Regions from separate parts of the Homo sapiens genome. Here regions 2 and 3 are each reported to be linked to region 1. The links are microRNA targets in miRTarBase. Many come from high-throughput screens and were not tested one by one. Region 1 holds a microRNA gene; each other region holds the end of a gene's coding sequence. Distances are between the middles of the regions.

Region 1 (6,075 bases):
ACACTGTCTGTTAACCACCAGGGATCCACCAAATCTCTGAACCACTCAAAGCAGCGCAGCACTCTGCCCAGGTAAGTGAGGGTGCTGGGGTGGTCCCACGTGACCCCCTTTCCGCCGGCCCCACACCTCAGCCCAGGGCACTGCCCCGCAACAGAGCTCCCCGGGACAGCCCCCCACCCCCAAAGCGGTATTCTCCCTCCAGACCGATCCACCCACCCTCAGGACCCAGCAGGCTTCACCTGCTGCCCAACAGACAGCCTTCCCGTCACACTAGCCACCTCCGGGTGCCCCGCCCCTGCGTTCATGCGTAGGCTCCTCCTCCCCAGGAGCTTCAGCCTGGACCCGCTCATGGAGCGGCGCTGGGACTTAGACCTCACCTACGTGACGGAGCGCATCTTGGCCGCCGCCTTCCCCGCGCGGCCCGATGAACAGCGGCACCGGGGCCACCTGCGCGAGCTGGCCCATGTGCTGCAATCCAAGCACCGGGACAAGTACCTGGTGAGGGGCGGGGCCATCAGGAGTCCGCCAATGAGAGGGATGTAGGGTCCAGATGGGCGAGGCTAATCACTGACGTCACCAGCGGAGGCGAGGCCGCCAGGGGGCGGGACCAGAGTGGTGGGGTGGGGGCGGGGCCCGGAGCGCGGCCTGGAGCGGAGCGGAGAATCCTGGAACGCTGGCGACTTGGCTGTGACTGGCTAGGCCGGGCCTTAGCTACCTTTTTATTTTCTTTATTTATTTACCTTTTTTTTGAGACGGGGTCTCACTTTGTTGCCCAGGCTGGAGTGCAGTGGCACGATCTCACCTCACTGCAACCTCCTCCACCCGGGCTCAAGCGATTCTCCCACCTCAGCCTCAGTAGCTAGGATTACAGGCGTGCGTCACTCACGCCCAGCCAATTTTTTTTTTTTTTTTTTTTTTTTTTTGTATTTTTTGTAGAGACGGGGTTTCGCCATGTTGGCCAGGCTGGTCTCAAGACTCCAGGGCTCAAGCGATCCACACCCGGCAAATTGTTGTAATTTTAGTAGAGATGAGGTTTCACCATGTTGGCCAGGCTGGTCTCGAACTCCTGACCTCAGGTGACCCGCCCGCCTTGGTCTCCCAAAGTGCTGGGGTTATAGGCGTGAGTTACTGCGACCGGCCTGCACCTTATTTTAGAGGAAGATTCTTACTTAGGATCCACCTCCACCTCGTGCCTCATTGCCGGAGATCATTTCTGTCTAAAGCCCTCCCCCTTTATTTCAGCTCTTCAACCTTTCAGAGAAAAGGCATGACCTGACCCGCTTAAACCCCAAGGTATGAAGGAAATGGCCTGCCCAACCATTAAACCAAGCCACCCCAACCCCAGAAGCCCCCAGCTTCCTCGTTATTAATAGTAGCAATTGGCATCTACTTCACTCTTAAGCACTTTCCCACTCTCCCATGATATATTACTGGAGACACCCCAAAACGTGATGCAGCAGGTATCAGCCCATTGTATGGATAAGGAAAGTGCCGAGGCTATCATGGACAACCAGCAGACCCCCAGCCTTGCCCCCGGACCCCTATGCCCTGTCCCCTTTCCACCCTGCCCATCTCTCTCTGTTGGTGGCCCCCGGCCCCAGTTGCACCCCTGCATTCTCCCCAGGTTCAAGACTTCGGCTGGCCTGAGCTGCATGCTCCACCCCTGGACAAGCTGTGCTCCATCTGCAAAGCCATGGAGACATGGCTCAGTGCTGACCCACAGCACGTGGTCGTACTATACTGCAAGGTGGGCCAGGACCTCGGGTTCCCTGGTGCCTGGAGGTTCCAGGTCAGCCTGGAGCTCCCAGACCCTCATCCCTGTCTCTCTGTCTGTCAGGGAAACAAGGGCAAGCTTGGGGTCATCGTTTCTGCCTACATGCACTACAGCAAGATCTCTGCAGGGTGAGGCTCCCAGCGCCTGAGTAGCTGCTTCCCCAGTGGCCCTTTCTCCAGCTGGCCCCTTAGGAACCCATCTCCCCTGGAGCCCACCTCTTCGTTGAGAGTCCTTTGCTGTCAGCTTAGCACTTCCACCTCCCTTTTATCACTAGTACTGCAACATAGTCTGCAGCAGATGGTCTGTAGAGTTTCCTGGGGCAGCCACAAACAGGGTGGTGTAAAACAGTGGAAATGGGCCGGGTGCGTTGGCTCACGCCTGTAATACCAGCACTTTGGGAGGCTGAGGTGGGCAGGTCACCTGAGGTCAGGAGTTTGAAACTAGCCTGGCCAGGTGAAACCCCATCTCTACCAAAAATATAAAAATATAAAAATTAGCCGGGCGTGGTGGTGGGCGCCTGTAATCCCAGCTACTCAGGAGGCTGAGGCAGGAGAATTGCTTGAACCCAGGAGACGGAGGTTGCAGTGAGCCCACACGGTGCCACTGTACTCCAGCCTGGGTGACAGAGTCAGACTCCGTCTCAAAAAAAACAAAAACAAAACAAAACAAAAAACAGTGGAAATGTACTCTCTCACAGTTCTGGAGGCCAGAAGCCCCAAACCAAGCTGTCAGCAGGCCCTTGCTCCATCTGAGACTCGGGATGGAATCCTTCCTTGTCTCTTTCTAGCTTCCAGTGGTGGGCGGCAAGCCTTGGCATTCCTTGGTTTGCAGACACATCACTGTAATCGCTGCCTCTGTCATCACATGGTGTTCTCCCTGTGTGTCTCTGTCTGTGTCTCTTCCTCTCTTCTTATAAGGACACCAATCATATTGGATTCAGGGTCCACCCTCCTTCAGTATGGTCTCATCTTAACTAATTATGTCTGCAACGGCCCTATTTCCAAATAAGGTCACATTCTGAGGTACATGTCTTTTGGGGGGATATAATTCAACCCATAAGATGGTTTTGTTGCCCTGTTTTACAGATGAAAAAACTAAAGTTCAGGGAACAATTGCCTGAGGCCCAACAACTAGTAAAGTGACTGTACATGGTGCTTCTCATTCTCATTACCACTACTCTGGGCTTCTTCTAGACTTAGAGAATCATATTTCTCCTCCATCCCCTGGGGCTTAGGGATGGGAGGCCAGGATGAAGATTAATCCCTAATCCCCAACACTGGCCTTGCTATCCCCAGGGCGGACCAGGCACTGGCCACTCTTACCATGCGGAAATTCTGCGAGGACAAGGTGGCCACAGAACTGCAGCCCTCCCAGCGTCGGTGAGCAGCCTGGGTGGGGATGGGCCAGAGGAGCAGCTCCCTTCATGGCTACCAAGGCCAAGACTCTCTTATTCATGCAGCACACTTTCACTGAGTGTGCCAAGCGCCGTGCCAGGTGCTGAGAATTCAAAGTGGACAAAGCCCCTGCTCTCATGGAGCTTTCATGCTAGTAGGGTGGAAGGCAGTAGACCTGGGAATAAATAGACGAGGAGATCAGTCATAAAGAGAACCTGAAGGACAGTCAGGGCCTGCCACTATAAAGTGAAGCAGAGCTCTGGGGAAAGAGCTTTGAGGCAGAGGGGAGCAGGAGGGATTGAGGTTAGATGCAAGGAAGAACTTTCTGGTGACCCGGAAGATGGGAAGGAAGTGTTGAGCAGAAGAGCGAGCCTTCTAAGGGTGGATGGTTGAAATGATACAAGGTGACCTCCAGAGGAAAAGGCTTATGTTCTCCTTGACACGCCCTCCACCAGATATATCAGCTACTTCAGTGGGCTGCTATCTGGCTCCATCAGAATGAACAGCAGCCCTCTCTTCCTGCACTATGTGCTCATCCCCATGCTGCCAGCCTTTGAACCTGGCACAGGTGAGTCTGCCTGAGATGTGCTCCCTAGGGAGAACCACCTTCAGGCCCTCTCCACTCAGCACCCCTCCTGTGCCTTCTCCTCTGCCCCTCCAGGCTTCCAGCCCTTCCTTAAAATCTACCAGTCCATGCAGCTTGTCTACACATCTGGAGTCTAGTGAGTGCTCTATTCCCAGGCCCCTGACACTTCATGACCAGGGCCCCTCTTGCTCCTGCATTCCTGCTTCTCCAGCCTCCCTAGACACCTGGGCAGGGCTCAGACTCTGGTCTCCTGGCTCCCCCTGACTGCATAGCTGCCTCTGCACGCAGGAGCTTCTGGTTCATCTCTGCCTTCTCCTCTCTCCCCACAGTCACATTGCAGGCCCTGGTCCCCAGCAGCTTTGCATCAGCCTGGAGCCAGCCCTCCTCCTCAAAGGCGATGTCATGGTGAGGGGGGTCCTGTCAACAAGAAGAATCCTGGAGATGGGGCAGGGGTTGGTGGTGTAACGGCACAGTCACCAATTTGAGACAGATTGGAGAGCGAGTAGGGAGATCACCTTGAGATCGAGGCAGGGCAGAAGCTGTGACCAGGCAGTCCCCAGGGTGGAAGCGCAGAAGAGGACATGAGGCCTGATCCGCAGCCTCCTGCCTTTCTCCCAGGTAACATGTTATCACAAGGGTGGCCGGGGCACAGACCGGACCCTCGTGTTCCGAGTCCAGTTCCACACCTGCACCATCCACGGACCACAGCTCACTTTCCCCAAGGACCAGCTTGACGAGGCCTGGACTGGTGAGTCTGAGACAAGTGGCCTGGGGCTGGAGTCCAGGTGGCAGGCAGGTGGCAGGCAGGTGGCAGGCAGGCAGGAGAGTGTGGTATGGGCCAGGGGCCTGGTTCTTCACTGTCCACTCCCCATAGATGAGAGGTTCCCCTTCCAAGCCTCCGTGGAGTTTGTCTTCTCCTCCAGCCCCGAGAAGATCAAAGGTAAGAGCAGGGACATGGGCTGGGGACTGAGGGCCGCCTCTCCCCTGCTCCCCAATACCCGAGTGGCCTTCCACAGGCAGCACTCCACGGAACGACCCCTCGGTCTCTGTCGACTACAACACCACTGAGCCAGCCGTGCGCTGGGACTCCTATGAGAACTTCAACCAGCACCACGAGGACAGTGTGGATGGTGCGCAGGCAGCCTGCAGGGTGGGAGGTACAGGGTTGTGGCGGGACCCTGGGGGGTGGTGCCAGGGAGAAGCACACTCCCTCCTCCCCAGGCAGAGCCCACTCCCGAGAGACACCCCCGGCCCGACAGCTGTCTCCAGTGCCATCCCCTCTCATGAATTTTCTCTCTCCCTCCCTGTTCCCCGCTTGCCCTCCCTCCCTGATCCTCTTCCCCACTCAGGCTCCTTGACCCACACCCGGGGTCCCCTGGATGGCAGTCCTTATGCCCAGGTGCAGCGGCCTCCCCGGCAGACCCCCCCGGCACCCTCTCCAGAGCCTCCACCACCCCCCATGCTCTCTGTCAGCAGCGACTCAGGCCATTCCTCCACGCTGACCACAGAGCCGGCTGCTGAGTCCCCTGGCCGGCCGCCCCCTACAGCTGCTGAACGGCAGGAGCTGGATCGCCTCCTAGGAGGCTGCGGAGTGGCCAGTGGGGGCCGGGGAGCTGGGCGCGAGACGGCCATCCTAGATGACGAAGAGCAGCCCACTGTGGGCGGAGGCCCCCACCTCGGAGTGTATCCAGGCCATAGGCCTGGCCTCAGCCGCCACTGCTCCTGCCGCCAGGGCTACCGGGAGCCCTGCGGGGTTCCCAATGGGGGCTACTACCGGCCAGAGGGAACCCTGGAGAGGAGGCGACTGGCCTACGGGGGCTATGAGGGATCCCCCCAGGGCTACGCCGAGGCCTCGATGGAGAAGAGGCGCCTCTGCCGATCGCTGTCAGAGGGGCTATACCCCTACCCACCTGAGATGGGGAAACCAGCCACTGGGGACTTTGGCTACCGCGCCCCAGGCTACCGGGAGGTGGTCATCCTGGAGGACCCTGGGCTGCCTGCCCTATACCCATGCCCAGCCTGCGAGGAGAAGCTGGCGCTGCCTACAGCAGCCTTGTATGGACTGCGGCTGGAGAGGGAGGCTGGAGAAGGGTGGGCAAGTGAGGCTGGCAAGCCTCTCCTGCACCCAGTGCGGCCTGGGCACCCGCTGCCTCTGCTCTTGCCTGCCTGTGGGCATCACCATGCCCCGATGCCTGACTACAGCTGCCTGAAGCCACCCAAGGCAGGCGAGGAAGGGCACGAGGGCTGCTCCTACACCATGTGCCCCGAAGGCAGGTATGGGCATCCAGGGTACCCTGCCCTGGTGACATACAGCTATGGAG
Region 2 (5,836 bases), 44 Mb from region 1:
TTTTGCTTTTAAAGCTTGCCATCTGACTTCATATTACTGAATTTAGGACAGGTACTTTGGAATTAATCATTGCTAGACCTCAGTTTCATTTAGCTTCCCTTCTCCTATCATCTGGCATTACCTACATGTTCTCACCATTTCTTCTAGGCTGCCAAGAGATTGCAGAGGAATTTCGCTCACAGGAGATTGATGGACAGGCCCTTTTATTACTTAAAGAAGAACATCTTATGAGTGCCATGAACATCAAGCTGGGCCCTGCCCTCAAGATCTGCGCCAAGATAAATGTCCTCAAGGAGACCTAAGGTGGCCCTCTTGCACAAACCAGCCTAAGGCAGACACTCTCCACTGTCCAGGTTATAACCTGGTACCAGCAGACTTTGCAGGGAAGAAAGAGTTGTTCCAATCATGTAACCTTCTGTAGGGGATTACTGAGACAGGGAAGAGAAGTGCAAGAATTGGTTGCTGGTGCTACATGGCGGCAGCTTTGACATTTTCTCTGGGTTCTACTTTATTTTTTAAAATCTTTACAGTTCTCACCATTTCACGTACCTTAATCCAATCTTTATAAAAGAGGCAGTCTAGAGAACTAGGACTGCTCAGCCTTATCCTGGAGTGGAGCATTTAGCCCAGGTCTTAATTCTCCAAGAGGAGGAATACATAGTATGGTAAGGCAAGGAACTGGGTGGAATGTCAGGTTGCCTGCCCAATGGGAGAGGTAGGGTTTTTCTAGCTTGTGTGACAGAAGTAGCAAAATCTGGTCCTCCCCCCTCCCAGTGTAGCTGTGGCTCAGAGTTTTTTCTTTTTGTTGTCACTTACTCCCTTGTGATTGAATTTTTTCTCCTGCATCCATGGCAGGATCCCCAGCCAGTATAGAGACTTGGTTGGCATCTTCTGCTGCAGGGACTAAAAGTATTTGACTGGGGCACATGTGGCTGTTGTCATTCTTTCTGCATCCCACTGTTCCCCTCCAATTTATGTTATTTTCTACCCTGTTTTTCAGTTCCATCTCTGCTCTGTCCTATAGCTTTATAAAACCAGAGTGTGTGGGGCTGAGGTCAGGAGTATAAGTACCTGCCTTAGGCACTATTCCTTATATAACAAAAATATTAAATATTTTTTTCCTCAGTAAAAGGATGAAAATTGGTTTCAGTTGTCTTACTCTATTCCAGTCTTTGCCCACTTTCACACAAATGACAAGGCCAATATGTTTTGTTTGTTTTTTAATCATTAAGAGTTTTTGTACAAAAGGTGATGGTTTTTTTTCTTCATTTTAAAACACCAGGGTGTGGGGGAGGGATGCAAACAAATAACAAAAAAGATGCTTTTGTAACATTATTTTCCCTGTTTAGAAAGAAAAAAATCACTCCAATAGTATTGAAAAGTCCAAAGATGAAATAGTTTCATTTTCTTTTCCTAAGGCTTATAAAAGGCCCCCTGCCTGTTGATTCCATCCCTCTTTTGTGTCCAGTGGAGCCATGTTACTCTTCAGTGGCCCAGGGGTTCACTATTAAAGAAAGATCAGTCCAGGTTTCTGGGCACATGGCCTAAACAGGAAGATGGAAGCATCAGAGGATTAAAAACCTTTCCCCACAGAAATGTGGGCAAGAAGACACTTCCCTGAGCCAGCAGAAGGGACAGGTGCAGCAGCATTCCACACCCAGCGCAGAGGACAGCAGAGCCCTCGATGTCCCACTTCTGCTTCCGTTCCCTTTCTAGAAGATTGAAAAAAAGGTCAAAACCACATGCCTGTGGAGAAAGTGCGACATGTTTAGAAATACTGGTAGGGAACCAGGAGTAAGAAAAGCTTTACCAGCTTTTACTACAAATGGATGAAAGACATCAGGATCCCACCACCGCAAGGTAAAGTGACTTCCCTTTTCTGGAACCCCTGTGGCACAGGAGTACCAATTTTCCTTTCCAACGAACTGGATTTCTGGATAGGCATTTTGGCTGTATGTGGACAGATAAGACCACAGTCCTTAGCCCAATCCCAGCTATACAGTCACCCCAATTTCCACAAATGATGTGATGGTACCGTATAATCCTGTAATTGGGAAATTTCACATTTTTCCTGTCCTAATCTCAGAGGTGGGAGAAGCAAGTCTAGAACATCTCCAGGCTCAGACTAAACGAGAGTACTTGGACTGCAACCAAGTAATCACTGCAAAGTAGTTCCAAGCAGCAAGAAATACCAGATTCTCATGGAGGCTACTATAGGGTACAGAATAACAACATGAAAGCAATCAACCCTGTATAAATAATGTTTCTTGGCATTTTTTTTTTAATTAAAGAAATCCAGTGTCTCAAAAACTTGTGAAAATGTGTTTAAAAAACAAACGGCCAGTGAGCCTGCTACACCATTTTGCCCATATGCCTATTGTAACTTCTGATGTCAAGAGACAATGCAAAAGCCTCTGTTTTCACAGGCCCTATTATATTAACTCTGACTTACAACTGTACCTCTCTAGAGAAAAAACAGAAAATAAGGAACAAAGGGAAGGCAGTTTTACTAGTGAGAAGATGCAAATCAAAAGCAAACTGGAAAGCAAGAGCAATAGTAAGGGTGAGATGAGGGACTGGAGTTGAGACTGCTTGAGAAATCTGGCTGTGTAGCTTTGGTTTGGGGGACTGAGGAAGAGGCTGGACATATAAAGTGCAATCTACATTGGTAATAAATGGTCATCCCTTTCTTCTGACTCCTCCCCCAGCTGGTCATCCCCCACACCACGATATGCTGCAGGCACATTTCGAGGTTTAGAACGGCAGACAAAGTCACAGCCATCCTGTAGGGGGAAAAAAAAGAAGGAAATAATTCGCAGCATCTAACTTTAGGATATGAGAAAGTGTACTTATGGTCTAGGAATGTGGCAAGAATTGGTTTTCTATAGGGATAATGAGAAAACCTAAAAGATCTGACAATCAGCCTAAATTCAATTTGGGGCAACAGGAGAAAAAGTTTCTTCTTATTAGGCCTCACCTTCTTCCCACCCAGGCCCTCTTAAAAGCTAAATCAGATTTAGAAGAGCCCATCTGGTCAACAGTGTTGCTCTTTCAGCAATGTCTTACCAAGGCCAGAAATGGATGCTGTGCCACTTACTACTCTGTACTAGGGCAACTGTCTTGTTTGCTGGGACTTTTGTGGTTTTAGCACTCAATGTCCTGTGTCCCAGGAACCCCCTCAGTGTGAACAAACGAGGATGGTTGGTCACCCAACCTTGTTTGCAGGCTACAAATTCAACCAGCTGCCCTGTTACTTACTGCTACCAGGTTGCCAAGATCCTGCCAGAAGGCTAAGTGGGGAAACTGCTCCATTCCTTTGGCTCCCACTACCAGTCGCTGGTATAGGAACCCCCCAACAACATAAACAGCAACCAGTGATGCAAACCTGTAGAGAGAGAAAGACATCTATACTTAAGAACTGGGAAATAGTAAAAACTCAGATAGGATAACCTCTGCATTTATTGTCAGCTGTTTCCTAAGATACATTCCCTGAAAAGGAAAAATGAGTAGTGATACTAAATGAAAAAGGGGGCTGGTAACTCTTAGAAAACCAGTTAGAGTGCTGTCAGTCCAAGAGAAGCAAAGGCCCAGACAAAATGTGACAGCGTGTGATTCTATGGCCAAGAATAATCACCATTAAGTATATGATTCCATTTCTCTAGAAGTTCTCATAATCTAATGAAATAATATAAAAATTGCCTAGTCCTGCAGTAGGGGAAAAAAGCACCTCCAAATGCAAATCTATACCGGCAACTAAACATTAAATCTCATTTTTCAAAAACTTGCAGTCAGAATTTTTTTTTTTTTTTTTTTTAGACGGAGTTTTGCCCTTGTTGCCCAGGCTGGAGTGCAGTGGTGCGACCTCAGCTCACTGCAACCTCCACCTCCCAGGTTCAAGTGATTCTACTGCCTCAGCCTCCCAAGTAGCTGGGATTACAGGCATGTGCCACTGTGCTGGCTAATTTTGTATTTTTAGTAGAGACGGAGTTTCATCATGTTGGTCAGGTTGGTCTCAAACTCCTGACCTTAGGTGATCCATCTGCCTTGGCTTCCCAAAGTGCTGGGATTACAGGCGTGAGCCCTGTGTCCTGGCAGAATTATTTTATAGCCAGAGGATTTAAAAAGTTATCCCCATCAATTACAGCATAATGTACACATACAATTTGTGCTTATGTACCACCATATAGTTACTGACCTTAAAAACAAAAGGAAGGAAGGTCTGTTCTGATAAAGGAAGGCATACTCACGTGACAAGTAAGATGGAACCCACACTGAGGTGGGAGATCTCTGGTGAACAGGCCAGGCTGCTATCCATCTCAAAGAGGTAGAAACAATCTTGGACTTTGCCACGCTCCTCAGACACAGGGTTAAAATTGTCCTGATGATGAGATGGCATAACACATTCAGGTGGTTAAGTGTTTTGACTCCTGTCCAACAAAATAAAAAACCCAAAAAACATCTGCTCCTTCCTGGTTCAGCAGCCTATTTTCCATGGAAGATGCGTGTCTGACACAGAGAGAAACTGAGCTCCTAGTTTTCTAATGTCCATCCCAACGTATCGTGTCCCCTCTGGATATTCTCCCCAACCTCAGGTCAGTCCTTTCAGTCTCCTCCCTCGGCTTATACAACACAGGGTGCCTCACCGCTAGGGTGTGTCGATTGCAGGAGATCATCACCACTGCACGACGCTGCTCCTTGCCACAGTGGTTGTCATATTCATCACCCCCTTTATAGATCAGCATGATCCAATTACCTGAGGAGGGACAAGGAAAATGGAGCTATGGGGTGGGGGAAAAGCAGAGGCAGATCTGGGTGGTATGGCAGAGTGGAATTGCGTAATTCATTGCAATTGGTTATAACTAAACAACCCTCATCAGTACGAACTTGGTATACCAGAAATGCCAAGCTAAACTTGTTTGCTTACAAAGACTTGTGTTCCCTTAAGACAAGAATCAGATATTCATTTAAGAATAATCTTAATTTTTAACATTAAAGGTAGGCAACTGACAATGCAAAACCAATTATGATCCATACCTTAACACTGATTCATTTTCTGAATACCTTCTAAAAGCAAAAAAAGAGGTTCCATACAATTGCTGAGCAGCAGGGGTAAGCCCATCTAAGATTTCAACTTAGCCCCAGATAAATTCAGAGTGGATATCTAAGATTGGAATGCATATCTCTTCTTTAGTATTTACTGTGTTCAGTTCTTTTGCAAAATATCATTTGATTCAGTAATTGTGAGGTGAATAAGGTAAAGATTCTGCTCCTAGTTTTGCATATGAGAAAACAAGGTCAAAAGGTGATACGACTTTCCAGTCACAGGATTAGGAAACAGGAGGAGAACCTGGTCACATGATCCCCAGCCCCAAACCCTTTTGTTACTTTTTTATTGTATTATTTACCAGGAGTAAATAGCTACCTTGTATAACTTATTTATCTGTATGGGAGGGAATTGGACCATAGGTGCTTACATGGTCCTCTCCAGCAATATGACTTTTAAGAAATATCACCACCATAGCACAAAAATCAGTGGGTAAAGTTTTGCAGACTGAGTAGTTTGCAAAAAAAAGTTTGAGCTCTTAAAATTTAACTGGTAAACTTTGATTAATTTGATGAAAAGTGGTGGTGGTGGTTGGTATTTGTAAGTCTAGTGTGAAACTCATTAAAAGTATTTGGGTGAATAAAAGGACTCTAGGCTACAGAATTCTGGCTAGAGTTGGCTGGGCGCGGTGGTTCATGCCTGTAATCCCAGCACCTTGGGAGGCCAAGGTGGGCAGATCACGAGGTCAAAGATCAAGACCATCATGGCCAACATTGTGAAACCCTGTCTCTG
Region 3 (5,836 bases), not on the chromosome of region 1:
CTCTCATGTCGGTGGCAGATACTCTGGGCACAGCGCACTCGCCCAAGGATGGCAGTTCCGTGCACTCTACCACTGCGTCGGCGCGGCGAAACAGCAGCAGCCCAGTCTCGCCGGCCTCCGTGCCGGGGCAGCGCCGCTTGGCATCACGTAACGGGGACCTGAATTTACAGGTGGCGCCCCCGCCGCCTAGCGCCCACCCGGGCATGGACCAAGTGCACCCCCAAAACATTCCGGATTCCCCCATGGCCAACAGCGGACCCCTCTGCTGCACCATTTGCCACGAACGTTTGGAGGATACGCATTTCGTTCAGTGCCCTTCCGTCCCCAGCCACAAATTTTGCTTCCCTTGCTCTAGAGAGAGTATCAAGGCCCAGGGGGCCACCGGCGAGGTGTATTGCCCCAGCGGAGAGAAATGCCCCCTAGTCGGGTCGAATGTACCTTGGGCCTTCATGCAGGGCGAAATCGCGACTATCTTAGCTGGGGATGTTAAAGTGAAAAAGGAGAGAGACCCTTGAACCACTGGGCAGCCACCTCCTTTGCCCTAGACCAGCTCCTCTCCAATCCTGAGGGCCCCTCCCCCAACCCAACTCGACCCTCCCTCCCCTCACCCCCAAGGTGTAGAATTGTGAATATAACGAAACTGCAAAAAGTTAGTCTTATGTATAGACATTATTTTCGTCGTATGTTTCTATATTTTGAAACAAAGGTATGTAACTTCTTCATTTGAAGGATAAGCTGGTTTGTGTTAAGCAGTATAGTATTGGTTGGGTCATTTGCATCATATCGTTAGCATTTATTTGGTGGCAGAATGTTTGCCTAGGTACAGAATTAATAGCCCTTAGCAACGACTGCTGCTGGTGTGTATTTTTGTAAATGTTATGCACTCTCTGAAAGGAAAAACACACACAAAAGAAAAAGACTTTTTTTTTTTTTTTTTTTTTTTTGCCAAGGCCAGTGTTGCTGCCTAAAAAAAAAAAAAAAAAAAAAAAAAAAAAAAAAAAATGCTATAAAATGGTGAAAGCTTCCTTCTAAACTGCCCCAAGTGTTGAAGTCTTCACTTTATTTTGTTGTTTTGTTTTGTTTTTCTGTTTTGTTTGCAAAATGGTAAGGGGGTGTCGGGGGGGATGGGGTGTATTTTGTTGCAAGTTTGTGAGGGGAAAATGTTTTGGTTTGTTTCTACTGACCTGAATGTGTTGGATCTACACGTGTTGTTTTGTTTTTGCTTTATTGATGCACGGATGCTTTTGAACAGTAGAGCGAAATGCTAGACATGGAGAATCTGCTCTGTTTGTCCTTTATACATTTCTGTAGTTAACAGAACACTGTAATGTGCCTTGGAGCTTAGTAACTTGTAATAAATTCAATTGATATTAACTGCGCTGAGTCAGCAATTTTGTCTTTCTAGGGCTAAGGCCATGCAACTCCGACGTAGGCGACACCCTCCCTACCTCCAGTATAGAACGAAAATCCTAGTGCTTTTGAAAGCCCTGGGAGCTGGCCTGTGGGAAAGGCCCTGTGCTGCCTTGCTGCCCCTCCCCCTCGGTACCAGGCTATTTAAATTCACCTCTTGGGGAGGCGACAGTTGCTGACTAAGCGATTTCGGTTTACTCTTCAGCATCTCTATTTTCCCCCGGATGCGGGCCCAGCTGCAAATGGCATTGTCAAGAATGCTTTCTGGTGCCTCGCCCTGTGGCGGTGAACATAGGCTGACACCCAGTGCAGCTGGTGACTTGACAAGTGGGCGAAAAAGTCTAGGAGAAAAGCTAGGATGCTTTGCTTCTTAGATATGACAGACATCAGTCTGCATATTTAAAACAAAACTGCCACAGAGCTGGGAGCAAATGCATACACTCAGCCTTGGAGAGTCCGCAGTAGCTTCAGGCTGGTTCCTTGGAAAACCAGTTTTCACCTCATTCATTACAAGTTTTCTTTCTTGTATTTTAAATAATTATTTTTAAAGGCAGAAATAATTCTAAAGACTTAGTTGATTAGAGAGGGTTTCTGAGGATGAGGAAGAGGGGGGGAAACCCCAAACTTAGTTCCTGAAGCAAAGGTTTACTTCCAACATCAAATAAAAATCCATTCCTGCTGGTGAAGCAATGCAATTATTCATCTAATCAGCTTTTGGCGGCGTTTGTGAGGTGCAGAGAGGCGGGGAAGCGGAGAGAAGACTACTGCCCTTTAGAGCAGAGCCCCTGCTCGTGGGCTGAGAGCAGCCTGGAGTCCTCCCAGTGGTAGGGGAAGGCAAACAAACCTGATCTGAACCTTGTACTTTCCTGGGAGGCAAATAGAAGAGCAGAAAACAGGAGGGAGGAAGCAAAACAAAACCCGGCAATCCAGTCAAATTGATTCCTGGCCACATCTCATTCCTGGGCGGGGCGAGCTGGGCCCTGTTGGTCCCCTCCAAGGCTGAAGGACTATTAAGAAACTTGGATCCCCCACTCCACTCCCATCAAAGGAGTGGGAAGACTGGGAGGTGGGGATGGGTACAGGCACGTTTGGGGAGAAACAAATCACTGGTTCGCCCAGAACTCTGGTGTGGAGGCCGGGCTGGTGTCGGAACTTGTTAATAACACCCTTTTAGTTTCTTTTCCTGCTTTGCCACTGCCATCACTGAAGTGGTGGAAACCAGGACTCTGTGTGCACGCGCACTCGCGTGTGTGTGTGTGGGTGTGGATAAGTGGCAATATTGATGGATCTGCTGCAGCCTCTTAATCCTGGTACATGGGAGGTGCCTGCCTCACCTCTAAGAATCTCCCCACATATAAATAGATATTCATGTCAGCTTCCTGCAAATGTGTCCTTGCATTTTCATCTGCTGCCAAGTGTTGTATTGGTGCTTATGAGTCATGAAACCTATTTTCATCCGCAGGGGTAATTAACTTGGGGGTGATAATGCATAGCAGACTGTAGGAAGAGTTAATTCCAAAACCCATCCTCGCCTGGCTACCAATCACACATTGCACTTAAAGGTCTGGGTTGGCTTTTTGTGTAAGTTCATTAATAAAAACCAAGCATGTTTTGCCTGGAAGATCCTCTAAGATGCTCCCAACTCCCGCTCCCAAGGCACATACTCTTAAAATTGGTAAAGCTCAACAGCCTGAGAATACAGTGTCACGGGTATAATTTAACTATCATTGAAGGAAGGAGCGGTGGGTGCAGCCACCCCTCCTCCGGCATTGCACAGTGCATGTGAATTTAGACATGTGGATCACCTGTCTGGGCGTGGACCTTATGAGTTGTGTCTGGTGGCTCCAGCTGGGAGTTGTCCCTGTTACCGGTTTCTGTGCACAGCTGCTCCTGCCGGCCTGCAACTGTCTCTTCATCACTATGGTATTATGCTCAGGAACTTTTAGGATTGTAAGACCCTTGATTACTAGTGCACATAGGTAGGAAAGGAGGGCCTGTCTTTAAGCACTGAGAACAGCATCGTTTCTTTCCTTCTTGTTGCTGGGTGCTATTATGAACAGTAGAAGCAGCAGCTGTAATAATGAGGCATCCAGCCATGGAGGCCAGTTTGGTTTCACTAAGGAAACCTGACTAGAGACGTTGGGGAGAGGAGGGAGGGAGTGGGAGGGAGAGAGCAGGTTGGGGTGGAACCCAGGCTAGAAGTGAATTATGATAGTGCAGTTAATTAAAGTTTATCATAGCCGGGGACCACTTGTTAAATGGAGGCTTTTTTTTTTTTTTAAACCATGTGAACTTTTCCTTTCCTGGGACCCATTCAGCTGCTAGTTTGGTTGCCTTAACCAGCCTTTCTCTGATCCCTCAGCTGGATTCTCCTTTCCCTGAAGCTTTCCACATTGGACGCCTAGGAAGCACTTTTCCTCTCTGGCGTGTAAGGATTCTTGTGGGTTTCTGAGATTCAGCCCAGGCCTCTGGATGAGCCGAGGCTCCATTCATCTCCATTTTACCTCCATTTCTTCTGACCCTCGTTTCCTATCCTTCTCACTCCCTTTCCCCTCAGAGCCAAAGTGGCCAACATTTAAAAATTCATATTTATCTTTGTGCATCATTTGTGCAGCAAATCCAAACGACATGTTTAAGTGGGCAGAGTGGTGGGGCAATGAGGACTCAATTCAACAGCTTTGAGAGAATAGGCCAATGGGAGTAATTTCTTGACCTTGATCTCTGAAGGCAGCACCATAGTCCACCATCGAAGGCGGCTCACCGTATCAAGTCCTCAATGTAAGATTCAAGGTGCGTTTTCACTTGCATCCAGCCCAGACTGGCTGATGTAATAAATACTGAAACTCACTTTTGTTTTCTGTAATACTTCATCAAGTCAGGAAGTTGGAATTGGGGCTGGGCGCTTTGGGAGGCTGAGGCAGGCGGGTCACCTGAGGTCAAGAGTTCGAGACTAGCCTGGCCAATATGGTGAAACCCCGTCTCTACTAAAAATACAAAATACAAAAATTAGCTGGGCGTGGTGACGTGTGCCTGCAGTCCCAGCTACTCGGGAGGCTGAGGCATGAGAATTGCTTGAACCTGGGAGACAGAGGTTGCAATGAGCCAAGACAGCACCACTGCACTGGGAATGACTCTTAAGGTCATCTAGTGAAATGTTCTCTAAACCTTTCTGGGGTCAGAGACACCTTGGAAAAATCTAGCAAAAATTATGGCTCCTCCCCAAGATATACCAGTGCCCACATACACAAGGATTTGCATACATTTTTTTCTTTTTTAATATACATTTTATATATTTGTTTTTGAGAAGGTAATACATTCCTTTGGTTCAAAACTCAAAGAATGAGGCCTGGAGTGGTGGCTTATGCCTTTAATCTCAGCACTTTGGGAGGCTGAGGCAGGAGGATTGCTTTAGGCCAGGAGTTCGAGACTGGTCTGGGCAACATAGTGAGACCCTTCCTCTACAAAAAAAATTTTAAGATTAGCCGGGCAGGCTGGGCGTGGTGGCCCACACCTATAATCCCAGCACTTTGGGAGGCCCAGGCAGGCAGATCATTTGAGGTCAGGAGTTCAAGACCAGTCTGGCCAACAAGGTGAAACTTGTCTCTACTAAAAATAGAAAAAAATCAGCCAGGTGTGGTGGCACACGTCTGTAATCCCAGCTATTCAGGAGGTTGAGGAGGGAGAATCGCTTGAACCTGGGAGGTGGAGGTTGCAGTGAGCCGAGATCACACCATTGCACTCCAGCCTGGGTGACAGAGCTAGACTCCTTCTCAAAACAAACAAACAACAACCAAAAATTAGCTGGGCAAGGTGGTGCATGCCTCTGGTCCCAGATACTTGAGAGGCTGAGGCGGGAGGATCACTTGAGTCTGGGAGGTCGAGGTTGCAGTGAGCAATGATTGTGCCATTGCCCTCCAGCTTAGGCAACAGAGCAAGACCCTGCGTCAAACAAACAAAAAAACAAAGGATGCAAAGGGGAATATAGTACAATGGCCCCTCTGCTACTCAGTTCCCTTCTGGGATGCAACCAATACTACTCAATTTCTCAAGGCATTTATGCACATCTAAAGCCCATTCATGAATTGAGGTTAGAACTTACGTCTGGTCTGGCCGGGCGCCGTGGCTCACGCCTGTAATCCCAGCACTATGGGAAACTCAGGTGGGCGGATCACCTGAGGTTGGGAGTTCGAGACCAGCCTGACCAACATGGAGAAACCCCGTCTCTACTAAAAATACAAAATTAGCCAGGCATGGTGGCGCGTCCCTGTAATCCCAGCTACTGAGGAGGCTAAGGCAGGAGAATTGCTTGAACCTGGGAGGCAGAGGTTGCAGTGAGCTGAGATCGCACCATTGCACTCCAGCCTGGGCAACAAGAGCAAAACTCTGTCTCAAAAAAAAAAAAAAAAAAAAAAAAAAGAACTTATGT

The links. Region 1 holds the annotated microRNA hsa-miR-6757-3p (AACACUGGCCUUGCUAUCCCCA, at 3,047-3,068, shown strand). A microRNA usually pairs through its seed, bases 2 to 8, with sites in the 3' UTR of a target mRNA and lowers its output. Matches are read on the target gene's strand: a 7mer-m8 pairs with bases 2 to 8, a 7mer-A1 pairs with bases 2 to 7 and ends in A, and an 8mer does both.
Region 2: the mRNA of PHC1 is a reported target of hsa-miR-6757-3p. Seed matches in the 3' UTR shown: 8mer at 771-778 and 7mer-m8 at 2,296-2,302.
Region 3: miRTarBase lists IRF2BPL as a target of hsa-miR-6757-3p. Seed matches in the 3' UTR shown: 7mer-m8 at 952-958.

The regions. Positions count from the first base shown.
Region 1 is chr12:53,053,944-53,060,018 of GRCh38, forward strand. It overlaps MIR6757 (microRNA 6757), which reads left to right and starts at 3,001; the gene lies at 3,001-3,069. TNS2 (tensin 2) reads left to right here. Exons shown (of 29, transcript NM_170754.4): 6 at 22-71; 7 at 327-498; 8 at 1,243-1,293; 9 at 1,625-1,747; 10 at 1,838-1,902; 11 at 3,070-3,153; 12 at 3,624-3,736; 13 at 3,830-3,890; 14 at 4,084-4,159; 15 at 4,373-4,502; 16 at 4,629-4,694; 17 at 4,771-4,884; 18 at 5,104-6,075. It overlaps TNS2-AS1 (TNS2 antisense RNA 1), which reads right to left and starts at 495. Exons shown (of 4, transcript NR_033854.1): 1 at 378-495.
Region 2 is chr12:8,939,158-8,944,993 of GRCh38, forward strand. PHC1 (polyhomeotic homolog 1) reads left to right here. Exons shown (of 15, transcript NM_004426.3): 15 at 148-2,310. The coding sequence ends at 302. M6PR (mannose-6-phosphate receptor, cation dependent) reads right to left here. Exons shown (of 7, transcript NM_002355.4): 4 at 4,644-4,753; 5 at 4,248-4,378; 6 at 3,259-3,385; 7 at 1,204-2,783. The coding sequence ends at 2,661. Among named protein-coding and RNA genes, the nearest start is that of M6PR, 7.6 kb to the right of the region's middle.
Region 3 is chr14:77,020,081-77,025,916 of GRCh38, reverse strand. IRF2BPL (interferon regulatory factor 2 binding protein like) reads left to right here. Exons shown (of 1, transcript NM_024496.4): 1 at 1-1,374. The coding sequence ends at 515. Among named protein-coding and RNA genes, the nearest start is that of IRF2BPL, 5.7 kb to the left of the region's middle. RefSeq lists a silencer at 1,645-1,870 and an enhancer at 2,077-2,371.